Regions from separate parts of the Homo sapiens genome. Here region 2 is linked to region 1. Evidence: fine-mapped QTL for protein levels in blood plasma. A gene starts in region 1. The other region holds a variant in brackets. All regions are shown on one strand. Distances are from middle to middle. Region 1 holds the start of ADA (adenosine deaminase). Region 2 holds the start of LINC01260 (long intergenic non-protein coding RNA 1260).

Region 1 (5,364 bases):
CCCTACCCAGACCATGGCAGTTGCCTCCTTCCTGGTATCCTGTCCTCCCTCACCCCCGCTGGCCCCCTGTAATGCCCTCCCCTCACAGCAGGGAGCCCAGGCTTCTCAAAGTGCCCTGTGGGTGCGAACCACCTGGGGGTCCTGTTTGTATAAAATACAGATTCTACTTCAGTAGGTCTGGGATGGGGTCTGAAAGTCTGCATTTGTAGTCAGCTCCCAGGTGATGTGGGTGCTGATGATCCCTGGATCACACTTTCAGTAGCTGGAGAATATTTTTTCCAAATAAAAGGGTGATTTTGTCTCGCCTCCACTTAAAACACTCCACTGACTTCCTAGGAATCCCACACCATCGCTGGGTCCCACATCCCTGGCAGGATTCAGCTCCCATCAGACCTTCTAGCCCCTTGCTCTCCACTCTCCCACTCTCTCTTTCCCCCTTGTTTATGGGTTTGTTAATTTATTTATGATGAAATGAAATGAAGCTACCATCCACCCCAGTACTGGAACATTATCAATAACCTGTGTGTGGCCAGGCGTGGTGGCTCATGCCTGTAATCACGCCTTGGGAAGCCGAGGTGGGTGGATCATGTGAGGTCAGGTGTTCGAGACCAGCCTGGCCAACATGGTGAAACCCCGTCTCTACTACAAATCCAAAACTTAGCAGGGCACGGTGCCACGCGCCTGTAATCCCAGCTACTCGGGACGCTGAGGCCGAGAACTGCTTAAAATCCAGGAGGTGGAGGTTGCAGTGAGCCGAGATTTCGCCACTGCACTCCAGCCTGGGCGACAGAGCAAGAGTCCATCTCAAAAAAACAAAAACAAAAACAAAAAAACAAAAAACAAAAATTAGCCAGGCGTGGTTGTGGGCGCCTATAATCCCAGCTACTCGGGAGGCTGAGACAGGAAAATCGCTTGAAACGCTGGGGGTGCGGGGGAGCGGTGGGGAGGAGGCGGGCCAGAGGGGCAGAGGTTGCAGTGAGCCCAGATCGCGCCACTTCACTGCAGCCTCCGCGAAAGAGCGAAACTCCGTCTCAGTAAATAAATAAATAAATAAATAAATAAATAAATAAATAAATAAATAACCTGTACCCGCGTGTTATTTCCCTCCGTCCTTACCTCCTCCCGGCTCCTTCCCTTTCACCTGAGATAACCACTCTTCTCGTATCTATGCTCATCTTTCCCTTGCTTTACATTTTTTCCACCGATGCATGTGTCTAAACATACATACTTTTGGTTTTGCTTTTACACATTCTAAAAGTTGCACCATTGTATGCAGTTTTCCGCAACTTAGTTTTTTTCACTCAACATTGTTTCTGAGACATTGTTTCTGTTGTTGTCTGGCTGAAGTTCATTCCGTTTCACTGCTGTCTAACGTTTCATGGTGTGAATATTCCGGTTTATTTGCCCACTCGCCCGTGGAGGGGCATTTGAGGGTGTTTCCAATGTTCCTGTTATTCGGAATAGCGCTGGTGTGAACATTCTGCACAGGTCTCTGGCTGCGCCTGGGCGGGTTTCTTAAAGGTGAATGCCCAGGAGGGGACTGTCTGTGTTCTCCCTCCCTCCGAGCTCCAGCCTTCCTCGCCTCCTTTCACTCCCAGCTCCCTGGAGTCTCTCACGTAGAATGTCCTCTCCACCCCCACCCACCCCTGATGAACTCCTGCAGGTTCTGCAGGCCACGGCTGGCCCCCCTCGAAAGTTCCTTAACTATACAATTATGGTGTGTGTTTCTGCGACGAGCGTCCGTCTATCCGGTGGAAGGCACGCCGCTCGAGGCTTGCGATGCTCCCGGGGTCCCCGCTTCTAGCTTGGGCCTGGCGCACAGCAGCGCCCAGACTGCAGGGGGACGCTTGAAAGTTGCTGGAGGAGCCGGGGGGAAGGCAGCGCCCAGCGAGGCGGCTGGAGCGCGCGCCCACAGGTGGGTCCGGTCGGGCGCCGCGGGGCCGTAGTTTTCGGGTCGGCGGGCGAGGACGCCGGGTCCAGAATTCCAGGAAATGCGCGATCCAGGCCGGCGGGCGGGGCGGGGGCTCCGGCGAGAGGGCGGGCCCCGGGAACGGCGGCGGGCGGGGCGGGAGGCGGGGCCCGGCCCGTTAAGAAGAGCGTGGCCGGCCGCGGCCACCGCTGGCCCCAGGGAAAGCCGAGCGGCCACCGAGCCGGCAGAGACCCACCGAGCGGCGGCGGAGGGAGCAGCGCCGGGGCGCACGAGGGCACCATGGCCCAGACGCCCGCCTTCGACAAGCCCAAAGTGAGCGCGCGCGGGGGCTCCGGGGACGGGGGTCCGGCGCCTGGGCGGCCCGAGGGGCTTAGCGGGGCCCAGCCCGGGGCGTCCAAACCCTGGGAACGAACGGGGGCTCCTGCAGGCGAGTTCTTCCTTCGGCTTAGGCCGTGGCTTGCTTGCGGGCTAATCAGGGACAATGGGGCAGAGAAGGTCCAGAACCCGGAGGCCTCCAGAGTCTGCTTCTGCCCCTGACTTGACCCCTCTGGGTCTCAGTTTCGCTGTCTGTCAAGTGGGCATCCTAGCACCGCTGAGCGCTGTGTGGGCCTGGGCAGGGACTTGAGGTCTCTGAAGCTCAGCTGTATGATCAGGCCCGATGTCTACGCCGGATAGGCACCTAGTGCTGTGCCCGGCGCCTACTGAGTGCTCAGTGAATGGAAGCAGCTTTGTACGCCAGCGTTATGGTGGTGAGCGCCAAGGAGCTCAGGTTTGTGGATGCGCCCCGGGGAAGAACCGTGAGCCCTGCCAGAAAGGGGAGGGAGGGGAGCAGAGCACCCCCCTTCCCCCGCGCGGGAAGAACAGGAGCTAGGTAGGCCCTGGGTTTGGGGCCCTAGCAGGGTTCACTCGAGGCCAAGCCATGGCCACTGGCCCCAGGGGAGAATCCCCTTGTTTCTCCGCCCACCAGCTGTGGCGTCTTGGGACTGTTGGGGTCAGGGAGGGTCTGGACCCCCTTGGCCTGTCGCAGAGTCCGAGAGGAGGGGCCCAGGAGTCTGCCAAGCAGGGTGAGTCAGCCAGTAGGGTGTGAGAGTGGTTGGGGAAGGAGTCAGCTGCAGTCAGCCTCAACTTACCCTTCTAAGAAATAGGTGTGAGTGGCCCAGGAGGTTGGCTCACGCCTGTAATCCCAGCACTTTGTGAGGCTGAGGCGGGAGGATCATTTGAGTCCAGGAGTTTGAGACTAGCCTGGACAACAAAACTAGACCCCGTCTCTCCAAAAAATAAAAAAAGTTAGGGGAAGTGTGTGTGGTGGTGCACTCCCGTAGTCCCAGCTACTCAGGAGGCTGAGGCGGGAGGATCGCTTGAGCCCAGGAGGTTGAGGCTGCAGTGAGGTGTGATGGTGCCACTGCACTTCAGCCTGGGAGACAGAGCGAGACCCTGTCTCAAAAAAAAGAGAAGAAAAAGAAAAGAAAAGAAATAGGTGTGAATGATGATGACAGCTATCACAAAAGTGCCGGTGAGAATCCAGTGAGTGTGCATGTGTCAGTGAGGGAGACAGGCTGTGGAGAGCCCACCTACCTTCTGAGGAGGGTGAGGCCTGGCCCCCACTACTGATGCCCCCAGCCCAGGGAAAATGCTCAGCTACTCCCCGTCAGAAGCTGGAAGCACTGAGGTGCTGTACAAGCCCTCCTACCCCCACCCCTGCCTCCTTCACGTCTTACTGGAGCTGGGGCCCATGATTGGCGCCTCCCCTTTGCAGTCTTTTTATTAAATGCTCTGGGCTCCCTCTGCCCTTGGGCTGGGGACCCACTGTACCCTGATGTGAATCCTATGGCAATAGCAAAGCTCTTTGATTGGCGGGGTGCAGTGGCTCACGCCTATAATCCCAGCACTTTGGGAGGCAAAGGTGGGTGGATCATGAGGCCAGGAGTTCGAGACCAGCCTGGCCAACATGGCAAAACCCCATTTCTACTAAAAATATAAAAAATTAGCTGGGCATGGTGGCGGGCGCCTGTAGTCCCAGCTACGCAGAAGGCTGAGGCAGGAGAATGGCATAAACCCAGGAGGTGGAGCTTGCAGTGAGCCGAGATCTCGCCATTGCACTCCAGCCTGGGTGACAGAGTGAGACGCTGTCTCAAAAAAAAAAAAAAAAAAAAAAAGGCTCCTTGATTGCGAACATGTTGGGAGTTATGGAGAGAACAGCAGGGCCCACTTCTAGAGCACTTGTTGCAGACACCCATTGGATCCTTGCAGTTCTTCTGTAACAGCCCATCAAGGGAGGGGCTCATATTATTATCCCCATTTTTTGGCCTTGCTCAGTCCTCCCATCTGATTCAAGCTGGCAGATCATTTTCCCTATTGGGACCTCAGTGTCCACACCTGGAGGATGGAACATCAGCTGCTTATGTGGGTGTCCCGTGTCCTGAGTCCCAAGGCCACAAGGTGATGCTTGAGAGTGAAGGTAGAATGTTACCTGCCATGTGTTTGAGGCGTGACAAATCTTGTATGATTGTGAGGAGGAACTTGTGTGAGCTGGCAGGAGAAGTGGGAAGGAGTGTGAATCTCAGAGCCACTGTGACCAGAGCCAGCTCCCTGCCCTCTTGTGGGAGGGACAGATGACAGTTATAATTATTAGCATTACTAGCTGCAGCTAATGGAGTGTTGATGTTTCTGTGCCAGGCACCGTTCTAAACACATTATCTGCATTTTTTATTTAATCCAGGCACAGAGAGGTTAACTAGGCCCAAGATCACACAGCTAGGAAATGTCCAATCTGGGGTTTGAGTCCAAGGGAGGCTGGCTTCGAAATCCCATGCCTCTAACCATCTTTCCTAAACTACCTCTGCAGAAGCCTTTGGGGATAGAGGTGCCAGTGCCCCAGGTGCAAACCTCCTGAGACAGGAGCCTTTGCTGTGTCCTTCAGCTTCTCATACCTGCCACCAGCTGAGGCCTGGGACCTGGTCAGCTAGAAGAAAGCAGAGCAGGGCAGCGCTTTTCAAACTGCACTCAAGTGGCCTGACTTTTAATGTTCACACTGTGATTCTGTGTGGGTCGGGTTGGGGCCTGCGATGCTGCACTGCTGACCAGCTCCCAGGAAATGCTAATGTCAACGATCCAGGAACACACTTTGCTTAGCAAGGCCCTAGGCAGCTGCCTTCTGTTGTGCGGGACCCCTATTGACTCCAATGGATATAGCACCAGGTTCAAGAGGCTACCTTCTTTGGAAGAGGTAGCAAACAAGATACGGGGTTTTACTGGGGGCTTAGACACAGGGAAGAGAGTCCAGTGGCGGCAGACTGAGCAGAAGAACCGCAACCACTTGCAAATCATGCAGTTTATGTAGCATTTTCATTTAACACCTTCTCCCAACCATCTCCACCTAGTAACCTTCATTTAACCCAAAACAAAGGGCCTCGGTCCCTATACCCCTGTATGGT
Region 2 (5,364 bases), 21 kb before region 1:
GCATAAGCGTTGCCCTGAACGATGGGATCTGATGCCTTTTGGTGGCCCTTGCAGTGTATGACTCCAGTTTCCTTTGGAAGTAAAGCGGCCTTGAGAAGAGTTTTTATTAAAGAGGCAATAATGATGGAGGACCCTTGCGTAGTGAGGAAACCTCTTTCAGCCCATTTAACACCATGGTGGTGCAGGATATGGAAGGCATATTTAGAGTCAGTATAAATATTGATGCGTAGTGCGTAGTTCCTTTGCAAGAGTGAGGGCTCGAGTTAAGGCAATGAGTTCAGCTTGCTGAGAGGTAGTGGAGGTGGGCAGAGTGGTAGCCTCAATGATAGATGTGGAAGATACTATAGCATAGCCTGCCTTTGCTGGTGTGTGGCGATTAGGCCTAGTGGAACTGCCATCAATATACCAGGTGTGATCAGGGTGAGGAACAGGAAAGAAGGAAATGTGGGGAAATAGAGTGAATGTCAGGTGTATCATAGAGATACAGTCATGGGGGTCACGTGTGGTATCAGGAATAATGTGGGAGGCTGGATTGAAGTCCGGGCCAGGAACAATGGTAACTGTGGGAGACTCAACAAAGAGTGAGTACAGCTGAAGGAGCCGGGGAGCAGACAGTATATGTGTCAGGTGTGAGGAAGAAAATAGATTTTGGAAGTTATAAGAACTGTAGAGAGTGAGTTGAGCATAGTTTGTGATTTTGAGGGCCTCCAAAAGTATTAGGGCAGCAGCGGCCACCGCATGGAGACATGATAGCCAGCCTAAAACAGTAAGGTCAAGTTGTTTGGACAAAAAGCCTATAGGGTGCGGTCCCAGTCCTTGTGTACGAATTCCAACTGCACAGCCCTACACTTCGGCTGCGTGTAATGAAAAGGGTTGAGATGAGCCAGGGAGAGCTAGTGTGGGAGCAGTCTCTAAAACTGTCTTCAAGGAACAGAAAGAGGAGTGGGGAAAGGATTGAGAATCTATGGAGTCAGCTAGGTTTCCTTTTGTGAGTTTATACAATGGTTTTGTTAGGATGGCAAAACCAGGTATCCAAAGACAAAAGTATCCAACCACGCCCAGGAAGTAAAGGAGTTGTTGTTTTGTAGAAGGGCCTGGGGTTTGAGAGATCAGTCGGACACGATCCGCAGGGAGAGCGCATGTGTTGTTATGAAGAATTATGCTGAGGTAGGTAATGGATGGAGAAGAAATTTGAGCTTTGGACAGGGATACCCAATATCCCTTGGAGAATAAATGTTGAAGGAGCAGGAGGGTGTCTTGTTGAGAAGATTCAAAGGAGGGGCTACAAAGTAGAAGGTCATCAATATATTGAATAAGGCAAGAAGCAGAGGGGTGGAAAGAAAGTAAATCATAAGAAAGAGCTTGGCTGAAGTAATGAGGGCTGGCCCTGAAGCCTTGCGGCAGTACAGCCCAGGTAAGCTGCTGGGACTGATGGGTGTCAGGATCGGTCCAGGTAAAAGCAAAGAGAGGCTGGGACAAGGGGTGTAGGAGAATAGTGAAAAAAAGCATTTTAAAGATCAAGAATGGAATAGTGAGTTGTGGAGGAAGATATTGAGGACAAAAGAGCGTACGGGTTGGGCACCACAGGGTGGATAGGCAAAACAATTTGGTTGATAAGGCACAGATCCTGAACTAACCTGTAAGACTTGTCCGGTTTTTGAACAGGTAAAATGGGAGAATTGTAAGGAGAGTTTATAGGTTTTAGAAGCCCATGCTGTAGCAGGCAAGTGATAACAGGATTTAATCCCCTTAAAGCCTGTTGTGGGATGTGATACTGGCATTGAGTGGGGTAAGCGTGATTAGGTTTTAATGGGATAGTAATGGGCATGTGATTGGTTGCCAGGGAGGGAGTGGAGGTGTCCCATATTTGTGGGTTAAGGTCGGGGGATATGAGAGGAAGACCCAAAGGAGGCTTTGGGTTGGGAAGAAGGGGGCAATGAGATGTGGCTGTAGTACAGGAATAATCAGGGAAGCAGATAATTTGGTTAAAATGTCTCAGCCTAATAAGGAAGCTGGGCAGGTGGGGATAACTGAAAAAGAGTGCATAAAAGAACGTTGTCCAAGTTGGCACCAGAGTGGGGGAGTTTTAAGGGGTTTTGAAGCTTGGCCATCAATACCCACAACAGTTATGGGGGCGAGGGAAACAGGCCCTTGAAAAGAAGATAATGTGGAGTGGGTAGCCCCCATATCGATTAAACGGGATGGACTTACCCTCCACTTTAAGAGTTACCCGAAGCTCAGCGTCTGTGATGGTCCAGGAGGCTTCTGAGGCGATCGGGCTACGTCAGTCTTCAGCTGCTAAGCCGAGGAGATCTGGGAAGGAGTCGGCCAAGGAACATAGGGTTTGGGCTCCAGGGGCTTTAGGAGTGGCAGTGATGTGAGTCGGACAGTCCGACCTCCAGCGGGGGCCCGCACAGACAGGGCACGGCTTAGGAGGAATCCCGGGCTGCGGGCATTCTGAGGCCCAGTGGCCAGGCTTTTAGCATTTGAAGCAAGGTCCACGAGGATGTTTTGAAGGAGCCCCTGGGAGCTGTGGCTTGGATGTTCTGAAGTTCTTGTATGCTGGAGACGTGGTTGTGGGCTGTCTTACAGCGGAGGCGAGCAGCTGTAACTCAGAAATGCGTTGCTGCCTGGCTACCTCCTCTGTATTATTGTACACTTTGAAGGGGAGGTTGATTAATTCGTGTTGTGGGGTTTGAGGGCCGGATTCCAATTTTTAAAGCTTTTTTCTAATGTCAGGAGCTGGGTGATAAAATGCATATTAAGAATAAGGCGGCCTTCTGGCCCCTCTGGGTCTAGGGCGGTAAAGTGTGTAAGGGTTGCTGCCGAGCGGGCCATGAACTGAGCTGGGTTTTCGTCTTTACCTTGGGTAGTTTCTCTAAGTTTGTCATAATTAACAGCTTTGTAAGCTGCCTTTTTAAGCCCTTCAACTAGGCAGGAAACCATGTAATCTCGCCTAGCCATACCTGGGGAATCTGCCTGATAGTTCCATTGGGGGTCCTCTCGGGGAACTGCTCTACTGCCTTCCTGGAGGTCAGGTTCATGAAGCCGGCGGTTATCAGCGTGAGATTGGGCTAGAGAAAAAACTCTTTCC[C/T]GTTCATCTGGGGAGAGGGTAGAAGTCAGGATGACATTTCAGTCACTCCAGGTTAAACTGTAGGACAGAGTTAGATATCGGGATTCCTGTATATATTTAGTGGGGTCTGATGAGAAAGAGCCTAAATGCTGGCTGATTTGGGAAAGGTCTGATAGAGAAAAAGGCACATGTACCCTGACTATGCCTTCAGCTCCAGCCACCTCTCTAAGAGGAAATTGTTGGGCAGGTGGGGGAGAGCTAGCCGCAGAACGAAACTGAAAACCAGACTGGGTGTGGGGAGGGCGGGTAATAGAAGGGTTATAGGATGTGGGAGCAGAGGCTGAAGAAGAGTTGGAGGCTGATTCAGCCTGGTGGGGAGCGAGCTGAGGAGGAGCAGTCTGGGAAGAAGGTGAGACGTCAGATGGTTCAGTAGAAAAGGAAGATTCACAAGACTCAGCGACGCTTGGGGTTGGGACTGAAGGGACAGGTGGGAGGGAAAGAAGGAGGATTTGGGACGAGTCGCATTGGGAACAGAGACTAGGGAGGGAACGAAGTGTGAAAAATGCCTGGACGTAAGACACCTCAGACCATTTGCCCATTTTTCAACAAAAATTATCTAGGTCTTGTAGGACGGAGAAATGAAAAGTGCCATTTTCTGGCCATTTAGAACCATTGTTAGTTTGTATTGGGGCCAAGTGGTGTTGCAGAAGAAAATAAGATGCTTAGATTTTAGGTCAGGTGAGAGTTGAAGAGGTTTTAAGTTCTTGAGAACATAGGCTAAGGGAGAAGAAGGAGGAATGGAGGGTGGAAGTTTGCCCATAGTGAAGGAGGCAAGTTTAAAGAGAAGGGTAGAGATATGGAGAAGGGGGTGGGGAGCAGCCCTGGGCTGCAATGTGGGTGAGCAGCCAAAGCAGGCGTCCCCGCAATTGACTTGCCACCAAGGGAATGTGGGTGAATGACCAAAGCAGGCGTCCCTGCGGTGATCGGACACCAATGGAATGTGGGTGAATAATCAGGCAGGCGTCCCCGCAGTGATTAAATGGCAAGGGAAGACTGTCTTCCTGAGTCTGTGACCGGCCCTGGAGTTTTGGGTTCACGGATAAAATGTGTCTCCTTTGTCTCTACTGGAGAGGAAAAAGAACTGGAATTGGAAGGACAGAGAGATTGAAGGGTAGCAAGAGAGGCTGGAGAAGAGAGTGAAAAGACCACTTACCCAATTTGAAATTGGTGAGATGTTCCTTGGGCTGGTTGATCTGAGGACCCGAGGTCGTAAGTGGATCTCTTCACGGAGTGAGGGTGAGGACAGGGGACTGGTCTCCCGAAGGAGTCCCTCTGACCCGGGTCTTCAGCACCAAATGTCACACGCATCTGTGTGAAGAGACCACCAAACAGGCTTTGTGTGAGCAACAAGGCTGTTTATTTCACCTGGATGCAGGCGGGCTGAGTCCGAAAAGAGAGTCAGCAAAGGGTGGTGGGATTATCATTAGTTCTTACAGGTTTTGGGATAGGCAGTGGAGTTAGGAGCAATGTTTTGTGGGCAGCGGGTGGATCTCACAAAGTACATTCTCAAGGGTGGGGAGAATTACAAAGAACTTTCTTAAGGGTGGGGGAGATTACAAAGAACTTTCTTAAGTGGGGGGAGATTATAAAGTACATTGATCAGTTAGGGTGGGGCAGAAACAAATCACAATGGTGAAAGGTCATCAGTTAAGGCTATTTTCACTTCTTTTGTGGATCTTCAGTTGCTTCAGGCCATCTGGATGTATACATGCAGGTCACAGGGGATATGACGGCTTAGCTTGGGCTCAGAGGCCTGACACAAAAGACCTGAAAAAGACAACTTGAGACCAACAGAATGTCTCTCCCTCTCCCCCGTTTCTTTTCTCCTTTTTTTTTTTTTTAGCAGCAGTTTACTCAAAAGGTAAACAAAAAAATCTTTTGCTATCTCTTATTAATACTATATGAGGCAGGGTGCGGTGGCTCCCGCTTGCAATCCCAGCACTTTGGAAGGCCAAGGCAGGCGGATCACCCTGAGATCAGGAGTTCAAGACTAGCCTGGTTAACATGGCAAAACCTTTTCTCTACTCAAAATACAAAAATTAGCCTGGCATGGAGGCGCATGCCAATAATCCCAGCCACTCAGGAGGCTGAGGCAGGAGAATCACTTGAATCCAGGAGGTGGAGGTCACAGTGAGCCGAGATCACGCCACTGCACTCCAGCCTAGGTGACAGAACGAGACTCCATCTCAAAAAAAAAAAAAAAAAAGAACAAAAAAAAAACTATGTGACTA

Evidence for each region. A credible set is the group of variants that fine-mapping cannot tell apart. PIP is the chance, under the fine-mapping model, that this variant and not a neighbour inherited with it causes the effect. Protein levels are from antibody-based Olink assays in UK Biobank. Linkage for the fine-mapping came from a reference panel and not from the study's own genotypes, which makes the PIPs less certain.
Region 2: its variant is the best candidate, but not a certain one, in a credible set for the plasma level of the ADA protein (UK Biobank, PIP 0.78).

What each region holds. Positions count from the first base shown.
Region 1 is chr20:44,648,453-44,653,816 of GRCh38, reverse strand. It overlaps ADA (adenosine deaminase), which reads left to right and starts at 2,118. Exons shown (of 12, transcript NM_000022.4): 1 at 2,118-2,242. The coding sequence starts at 2,210. RefSeq lists a silencer at 1,920-2,309 and enhancers at 1,346-2,329, 2,560-2,669, 5,259-5,364.
Region 2 is chr20:44,669,757-44,675,120 of GRCh38, reverse strand. LINC01260 (long intergenic non-protein coding RNA 1260) reads left to right here and starts at 3,382. Exons shown (of 5, transcript NR_034104.1): 1 at 3,382-3,482. RefSeq lists enhancers at 3,642-4,141, 4,142-4,643. The variant C/T (reference allele first, on the strand shown) is at 3,095.